Homo sapiens: one gene and its partner. The protein of the gene in region 2 interacts with the protein of the main gene of each other region in a pairwise test. Each region holds a gene or a part of one and is shown on either strand. Other genes may lie near its edges.

Evidence for each region.
Region 1: the proteins of NUP205 (region 2) and HOXC10 interact in a two-hybrid assay, tested with the Homo sapiens proteins (one large-scale study listed by BioGRID and IntAct).

The regions. Positions count from the first base shown.
Region 1 is NC_000012.12:53,983,835-53,988,228, reverse strand, and holds the start of HOXC10 (homeobox protein Hox-C10), read right to left. Parts: upstream 3,084-4,394; 5' UTR 2,970-3,083; coding exon 2,219-2,969; intron 1-2,218. UniProt on the Homo sapiens protein: Sequence-specific transcription factor which is part of a developmental regulatory system that provides cells with specific positional identities on the anterior-posterior axis.
Region 2 is NC_000007.14:135,578,171-135,581,980, forward strand, and holds part of NUP205 (nuclear pore complex protein Nup205), read left to right. Parts: intron 1-580; coding exon 581-745; exon of another isoform or gene 746-756; intron 757-3,810. UniProt on the Homo sapiens protein: Plays a role in the nuclear pore complex (NPC) assembly and/or maintenance. May anchor NUP62 and other nucleoporins, but not NUP153 and TPR, to the NPC.

The DNA of each region.
Region 1 (4,394 bases), on a different chromosome or scaffold from region 2:
ACAGCCTCTATCCCTGACACACATTCTTGCTGAAATGGACCAGCCTTGCTTCTCAAGTAGCAGAAGGGAACCTGGCCATCTTTTTAAGGGCAAAAAACAGAGTCCAAAGACCTGAGAGGACACCCAGCAAAGGACTCTGCTGATGGCTCTGAGCTCTCTCTCCTCCCTATTCCAATGAGGCTGCCAGGTTCCTGGATCTTATCTTGTTGGGGGCGGGGTGAGGCGGGGGCCTAAGAGGAACCAGAAAACACACAAAAAAGGCAAACTTGAGGTTGCAGTCTAAAAAAATCTGAATGTCCCGAATTTTCTCTCCTGTCTCTGCACCTGCAGCTTCTTGCCAGATTGTTTACAAGCTCTCCACATCTAACTACGTCCTGTTTATTTTCTTACTGGAGTTGTTAGGTTTGGTGGGGTGGGGGGACAAGACAAATTATAAATGGGGAAGTTTAATCAAAAGCTCTCTTGCCTCTGGCCTGGTGGAGACATCAAAACAGGAGGAGAGGAAAGAAGGGCACAGAGAGGGTACAGGGTAAGAGGGATTCCTTGGGGTGGGAGGGATTAGGTTGCTGTGGGGACAGCTAGAGGAAAGGGAGAGCCTATGGGAATGGGTGCAGGTCGAGTTAAGAGGTGAACTTGTTAACCTTGACTTTGCTTTTGGTGGGGGCTAGAATGCAGGTTTTCCTGCCCCAAATCTGCTCCCTAACCAAGCTCAGGGTCTGTAGAGAGGGTATAAGATTAAACCTTCACACTGCACACGTGCCAAACGAAAGGCTTTGAGGCTGTAGGCGCCTCACTCTCCCCCTTATCCTCATGAACACACCAGCGCTCATCTTCCAGTCAGTGTCTCTATGGGGATGATTTACCAAGACCACCTTTGCAGACCCAAGGGGATGAGGCTCTGCCCTTGCCCGCCAAAAGAGTGCCTGTGCATGTGTGAGCGGGCATGCGTGAGTGTGCAAGGATCATGCAATATGGATGTGCGTGAGTGTGGCACAGGTCGCCCGTAGGCATGCGTGTGCGTCGCATCCATATACAAAGCACCAGGAGATCCAGGCCGCCCCCAGCCTGCTCCGCTCTCAGTATTTCATCTTCCTCTACACCCAATGAGCCCCTTATATACTGTCACCAGTAGCCGGTGTTGTGGGGAGCAGGTTTATTCTTCCCCGTTGGTTGGGCCTTTTTCTGAGGCTCTTGCTACAACTTTTCAGGAAAAGTCGTTCCCCTCAGCTTTTCCTCCCCTGCTCCCGTTTCCTCCACATTCTTTCCCCAAGTATCAGAGAAAGATCCCGAAGGCCCCCAGCTCCTACAGCAGAAATGAATCTTGAACCCTGAGCTTGAACTCTGGCTGGGCTTTCTCTCAACCAAAATTACAGTGAAATCCAACCAAAGCCACATTCCCTTTCAGGAGAAAACCTCTTGCCACGCACACAGAAATTTCCCAACCACTCATTTGTAAGCTGCTTTTGGAAACCAATGAAAAAAGATAATTTAACTAGAAAAAAATGGAAAAGAAAAAATTAAAAGAGGAAACAGAAAACTTACAACATTCCAAATGCCCTGTTCCAACGCCATCCAAGCCAGGCATCTGGAGGAGGGAGGGACGTGGCGGGCAGCCCTTCACCTCCACCTCTTCCGGCTCCAGCCTCGCTGCCCAAGGCCCCCGGCCGAGCCAAAAGCCGCAGGAGCCCAAGCCGCACGCACAAATCAGACCCACAAACAACAAATCGCGTTTCGCAGGAAACAATTTTCAACTGGGAAAACGCAGTAAAGAGAACTCCCCCCATCTCCCCAGCCTTCCCTAGTCCCTGGCCCAAGATCGCCATTTTAGGCTTTTTGCAAGCCCCTGACCTGAGCTGGGGGACGTCAGCTCCCCAGGACACCAGCATTGAGAAAGCAAACCACAGCCAGCACGCGCCTGGGAGCAGCCACCCGTCCGGTGCAGCACACTGCGCCTGCAGGCGGCCCGCGGTGCGCACCGCCCCCGCCTTAGCACCCATGGCCGGGGCAGGGCCGACACCTCCACGTCGCCGCTTACCTTCCCCAGCTAAGTGACGCGCCACCAGCCTGGAGCTCAGCGGACGCTAGTCGAAAGCCAGGGTCGCATTCCCGAAATGGTCTGGGGCCTCCTGGGCCCAACCCTCTCCCCTGCCCCCCTCCCCGGCCGCGAAGACCAAGTGCCGGAACGTCCCAGTGGCGCCCGCGGCCCAGGCGGCCTTACCTTTCGCTTCGTTATCCGAGGTGTCTGGGCTGGAGTCGGCAGCTTTGGCCCTCTCCTTTTCGCTCTCCGAGGGGCTCCCTTTAGGGCCCGCCAGGCTCTGCTCCGTCTTGATTTCATTGGGGCTGGGGGTCTGGCTGTCGGACTTGGGGGTCTCAGGGAAACTCACTTTGCCCCCCAGCTGAGGCGATTCCAGATGTTCGGCGCGCGGGTTGAGACTGGCCCGCTGCTCGAAAGGGGCTTCGAAGTCGTTGGCCCCAGAACAGTGGGGCGTCTTGTCCAGCGCGGAGTAGCTCGGGCTGGCGCGGTAGTAGCTGGGCACGGGTACCTCGTGCTCCCCAAGGCAGGACTCCGGCAAGGGGTGGGAGTAGAGAGCTGCCTCGGGGCCACTTTTCGCCCGCTTCTCTGCGCTGTACATGCAGCAGACATTCTCCTCCTTGACACTAGGTGGGTAGGAGCAGGAGGACAGCGGCCTGCCAACAGGTTGTTCCAGGCGATAGGCGGCTTTGGGGTCGCCCCAGGAGTCCAGCTGCGAGAGGTAGGACGGATAGGTGTTGAGGGCGAGGCTGGGGCTGCTGCCCTCGTCCCTCTTGGAGAGCGAGGGCGCGAGCCCGCAGCCCCTCATCACCCCGCAATTGAAGTCACTCCCAGACTGCATATACATGCCTGCGCTCCGGCTATAGCGCTCTCCTCCGCCGGGCGCAGCCAAGGGCTCCGCGTACGAGTTCGGAGTTACATTGCGAGGGCATGTCATTTTCAGAGAGAGGGGTTTTTAAGGAGCAATACTACAGCGGAGGAGCTGACATCTTTTTTTTTCCCCATCCGGGAGGGGGGGCGCGGTTGGAGGGGAGGGAGGAAAAAGAAGGGGAGGGGGGGAAATATCAGCTCCGTAATTATCCGCGCATTCGGTTCTCACCATGTGACGGCTAGACCAATGGGATTTGAAAATGGCCTTGATGATTCAGACGGCCGTGACGTCAGCGGGGTCAAGTTGTCGGCAGGCGGAGCGCGCAGAGTGGAGTAACAGCGCCATCTAGCAGCTGCCTCGGGGTAGGGGCACCGGAGCCCTTCCCCGCGAACAAAGGAAGCGCCCCCCGGGCGGCAGGGGAGGTAGAGGGGTGGAGGGGGGTGGGGGTGGGGGTGGGGGTTCTAGGAAGAGTGGGGTTTGTTTATCCAGTAACCAGCCTGTAACTCCTGGGGAGAAGGGGGCGGAGAGGGGGGAAATGCGGGAGAGAGGGAGAGAGCGAGGCAACCCGGGGCTCAAAACAGTCAAATTCAAATTAAAAGGTCGAGACACGAATCAGGTACTTCTCCCCACTCTTCATCTCCCCTTTCCATATCCCCGGACCCGACTCCCACTTCTTACCTTGGGGATGGGAGTGGGGTGAGGTTTGTGGGGGGGGGGGTTTGGGGGGATCTGATGAGCAGAGAAAGGGGAAAAAAAGTTAAGGAATACCAAACAGGACTAAAGTTTCTGCTCTCCCGCCTCCTCTTTTCCCCGGGCTTGGCCCTCGGGGCTGGAAGCTTGGGGGCCGCGGCGCTGGAGTTGCAAGTTTCCTGTGGGGGTTGACTGGGAATCTCCAGCCTCTAGGGTGGGCCAGGGAGGGGGTCACGGTCACTTCATGGCTGCTCGGAAAAGGAGGTTCCGAATGGACGCGGGGTAGGGGAAAGAGGAAGCCAGAGACCAGAGGCACCCGATCCCCGACCCGAGAGCTGTGGCCTGGGCCTGGCAGGGTGGGCGGCTCCTGGGTCACCATCTCAGGGGCCCACAAGGCTTTGGCCTTGGAGCCGGTTCTGCTGCTTTACTTCAGGCCCTGGCGGTCCTCGCTTTCCGCTTGACCTTGCCCCCGCTAAAACAGGGAATATTCCGGGAAAGAAAGAGGGAACCTGCGGAGCCTCGGTCAGTTTGGAGGAGTCACGTATCACACGGGAAACCAGCACACAAGACGCAACAAAACCCGACCCAGAGAAGCGTCCTTTACAGAGCGCACGGGCTGGGAGCATGTTTGAAAGAAGACAGACCAGTCTATTTTTGTGGTTGTTTTTAAATAAAAGGAAGAAATAAGGGGAACCGTATGTTTCAAACAGTTATTTCCGTTTCTCCATCGCCTTCTTCCAAAGCGAACTAAACTCTCCACCCCTTCCTCAGGAAACGGAATCTGGAGAACAACTTGTCTTT
Region 2 (3,810 bases):
TAAGATCACATTTAAAAAACAGCTGCAGTCCTGTTAATTATTTCTGTTTTTTGGGGGGATTTGGAATGGAAAGTATTAAAGCATATATTATACATGTTCATGATTGCACATGCCTAATTTACTTAATTGCTTGTTTCTTTACCATTCATTTACATTTTCAAACTTTTTATTAAAACATTCTGAGACAGTGACTGTCATTTCAGTAATGTAATCTTTGATCTGTGTTTTCTGTGAAGTAAATAAAATTTTTGTGATCTTTAGATAGCATGATTTCTATTTTAGAATTTATGTGCAGAAAAAATGAGTGTCTAACTTTTTTCTTGTTTATTTGTAGTACACTTATAAAAATGACTGAAAATAGTGAAATTGAAATTTAGGATTATTGTCATTTTCTTTTTTTGTTTTTAGTATGTGTACAATCAACAGTAGTGTACCTTTTGGGATGTAGAAATTAATGTTAATTGGTCATTATTCTTCTGTGAGAATGCTCAGATTTTCTGACTTTTGGATATTATTCCTGTGTATCAGAAGTGAGAATTTATCTGGTGATCGGTAAAGTGGTCTATTTTTGTGTTTTCAGATATGATTCATCAACTTCCACTGTTGACAGAAAAACAGTACATTGCAACAATTCACTCTCGTCTTCAGGACTCACAGCTTTGGAAACTGCCTGGGCTCCAAGCCACTGTTAGACTTGCCTGGGCGCTGGCATTGAGGGGAATATCCCAGCTACCTGATGTGACAGGTGAATTGATTGTAGGTAATTTTGTTATGAGAAACAGCATGTTAGCACTTAATGACATTTTTGGAAGGAGTATTATCTTTGACATACATAAGCATAAGCATAGGAAGATATCCAGAGTTGTATTAAATGAAACCTTTAGTGTAGTAGTGAAATACAGACTTTTTTCTCCTTGTCTCTCAAAAATATCATATGAAATACTATTTCCCATTCTTGGAGCCACTGACAATGCTCTTTTACCTTCAGGGTATGAGTTTAAAATTTGGAATGACAGTGTCACATTAATTTTTTTTTTTTTTGAGATGGAGTTTTGCTCTTGTTGCCCAGGCTGGAGTGCAATGGCACAGTCTCGGCTCACTGCAACCTCTGCCCCCCGGGTTCAAGCGATTCTCCTGCCTCAGCCTCCCAAGTAGCTGGGATTACAGGCATGCGCCACCACACCTGGCTAATTGTGTATTTTTAGTAGAAATGGGGTTTCTCCATGTTGGTCAGGCTGGTCTTGAACTCCCGACCTCAGGTGATCCGACTGCCTTGGCCTCCCAAAGTGCTGGGATTGCAACACGTGAGCCACCCCGTCCGGCCTTAAATGTTTTTTAAAATTAAAATATACTATTCCTTTTATTTTTATATATTTTACTTCTTGATTTGTTCACAAACTAGTTTTTCACATTGTGTCAAATTAAAAACAGTTATTTTTCCATACAGTGTATTAAAAAGGAGATATTTGGATCAGTCAAGAACAGATGTGGAATCCCGACTTTTCTTTTTTGTGGCCCAGGCTGGAGTGCAGTGGCTCGATCCCGGCTCACTGCAACCTCCACCTACTGGGTTCAAGTGATTCTCCTGCCTCAGCTTCTTAAGTAATTGGACTACAGGCACACGCCACCACACCCGGCTAATCTTTTGTATTTTTAGTAGAAACAGGGTTTCACCATGTTGGCTGGGCTGGTCTCGAACTCCTGAGCTCAGGTGATCCACTTGCTTTGGCCTCCCAGAGTGTTGGGTTTACAGGTGTGAGCCACCGCGCCTGACCAGAATACTGACTTTTAACAACCTGTTAACTCACTGTAGCATATATTATTCTGCTATTTACATTTACATTATTTAATTGTCATATTAGTAGGGGTTTATTCTAACAGAATGAGAACCATACATGGAACACGAAGCCCAAAGAATTGTCTTTTTATGGTAAATCTAGAAAGGCTTTATTCAAGTTTACAATTTATGTCAGTTTTCTAATCCTAAAGTATCAACAGATTCTAGTATCTTATCAATCGTGTAATTCCAGAACATTTTGTTTTCACTAGTGTCATGCTGTTCCCAAGGTGTTTGCAGAAAGCTTTTTTTGTGTTAGGAGTCTTTCTTTGGCCAGTTAATTTCTATCTGTCTGTCATCTATATATCTAAATGCTGATAGCGAATTAGACTTTTACATTCCCGTACAAATTCTGTTTCTCACCTGTACGTACCCTCATCATTTATAAGTCTTATTTCACTACTTTTCTGACATAAAGTTACCCTTTAACCTTTGAAGTGGCTATGTGATAGTTAATATCTTCTTTTTTTATTTTGGAGATGGAGTCTCGTTCTGTTGCCCAGACTGGAATGCAGTGGCATGATCTCAGGTCACTGCAACCTCTGCCTCCTGGGTTCAAGCAATTCTGCCTCAGCCTCCGGAGTACCTGGGACTATAGTCGCACGCCGCCACACCCAGCTAAGTTTTTGTATTTTAGTAGAGACAGGGTTTCACCGGGTTGCCTAGGCTGGTCTCGAACTCCGGAGCTCAGGCAATCTGCCTGCCTTGGCCTCCCAAAGTGCTGGGATTACAGGCGCGAGCCACCATGCCCAGGTGTGATAGTTAATATATTAACTATATAATATAGTTATACATAGATAGTTATTATAATATTATGTAATATGGTCACAATCTTATGCTATAATTGCCCATACCACTGCACTAGTTTTGAAAGGTTTAATAGAATATGCTATAGTTTGCTGTAGAATAATAGTAAAAATAGGTTAGGAATCACAGCCCTAGTTTCAAGTCCCAGATCTTTGGCTACTTAATCTCTTTGATTTTATATGCTCATATCCTTTTATAAGCTTTAATAGTTAGGGGTATTATAATTAGAATTTTTAAACTATAAAAATTTTTCTGTTAATTTGCATTTTAAAAATTGTTAGAAAAAATGACTAGCTTGTGTTATTTTGCAGAAATGGTCACTTCTTGAAATAATCCAGACAAGTTTTAACGAAGATCTCCAATTTGAAAAATTGGTTTCTGTTCTCTTCATAGACTTCTGAAACTTTTATCAAATGTTTTTATTATATTATTCTATAAAAGGCATGAAGCCAGGTGCAGTGCCTCATGCCTATAATCCCAGCATTTTGGGAGGCCAAGGTGGGAGGATTGCTTGAGCCCAGGAGTTCATGACAAACCTGGGCAATGTAGTGATACCTCATCTCTTCAAAAAATTAAAAATTAGCCCAGTGTGGTGACATGCCCTTGGCTGTAGTCCCAGCTACGCAGGAGGCTGAGGCAGGAGGATCACTTGAGCCCAGGAGAGAGGCTGTAGTGAGCTGAAATTGCTCCACTGCACTCCAGCCTGGGTGACAGAGTGAGATCACATCTCAAAAAAAATTAAAAAAACAAGCATCGGCCGGGTGTGGTGACTCACGCCTGTAATCCCAGCACTTTGGGAGGATGAGGCAGGTGGATCGCTTGAGGTCAGGAGTTCAAGACCAGACTGGCGAACGTGGTAAAAGCCCATCTCCACTAAAAACACAAAAAATTAGCCAAGCATGGTGGCGCGTGCCTGTAATCCCAGCTGCTTGGGAGACTGAGGCAGGAGAATTGCTTGAACCTAGTGGGCAGAGGTTGCAGTGAGCTGAGATCATGCCACTGCACTTTAGCCTGGGTGACAGAGTGAAACTCTGTTTCCAAAAAAAAAAAATCAACAAAAAAACCAAGCATTTTTGTAATTTCACTAAGCTTTACAGAATTTTAGCATACTGTTTTTAGGCATTGAAACTCAATTTATATTAAGACAATGATGCCTTATTGCCTAA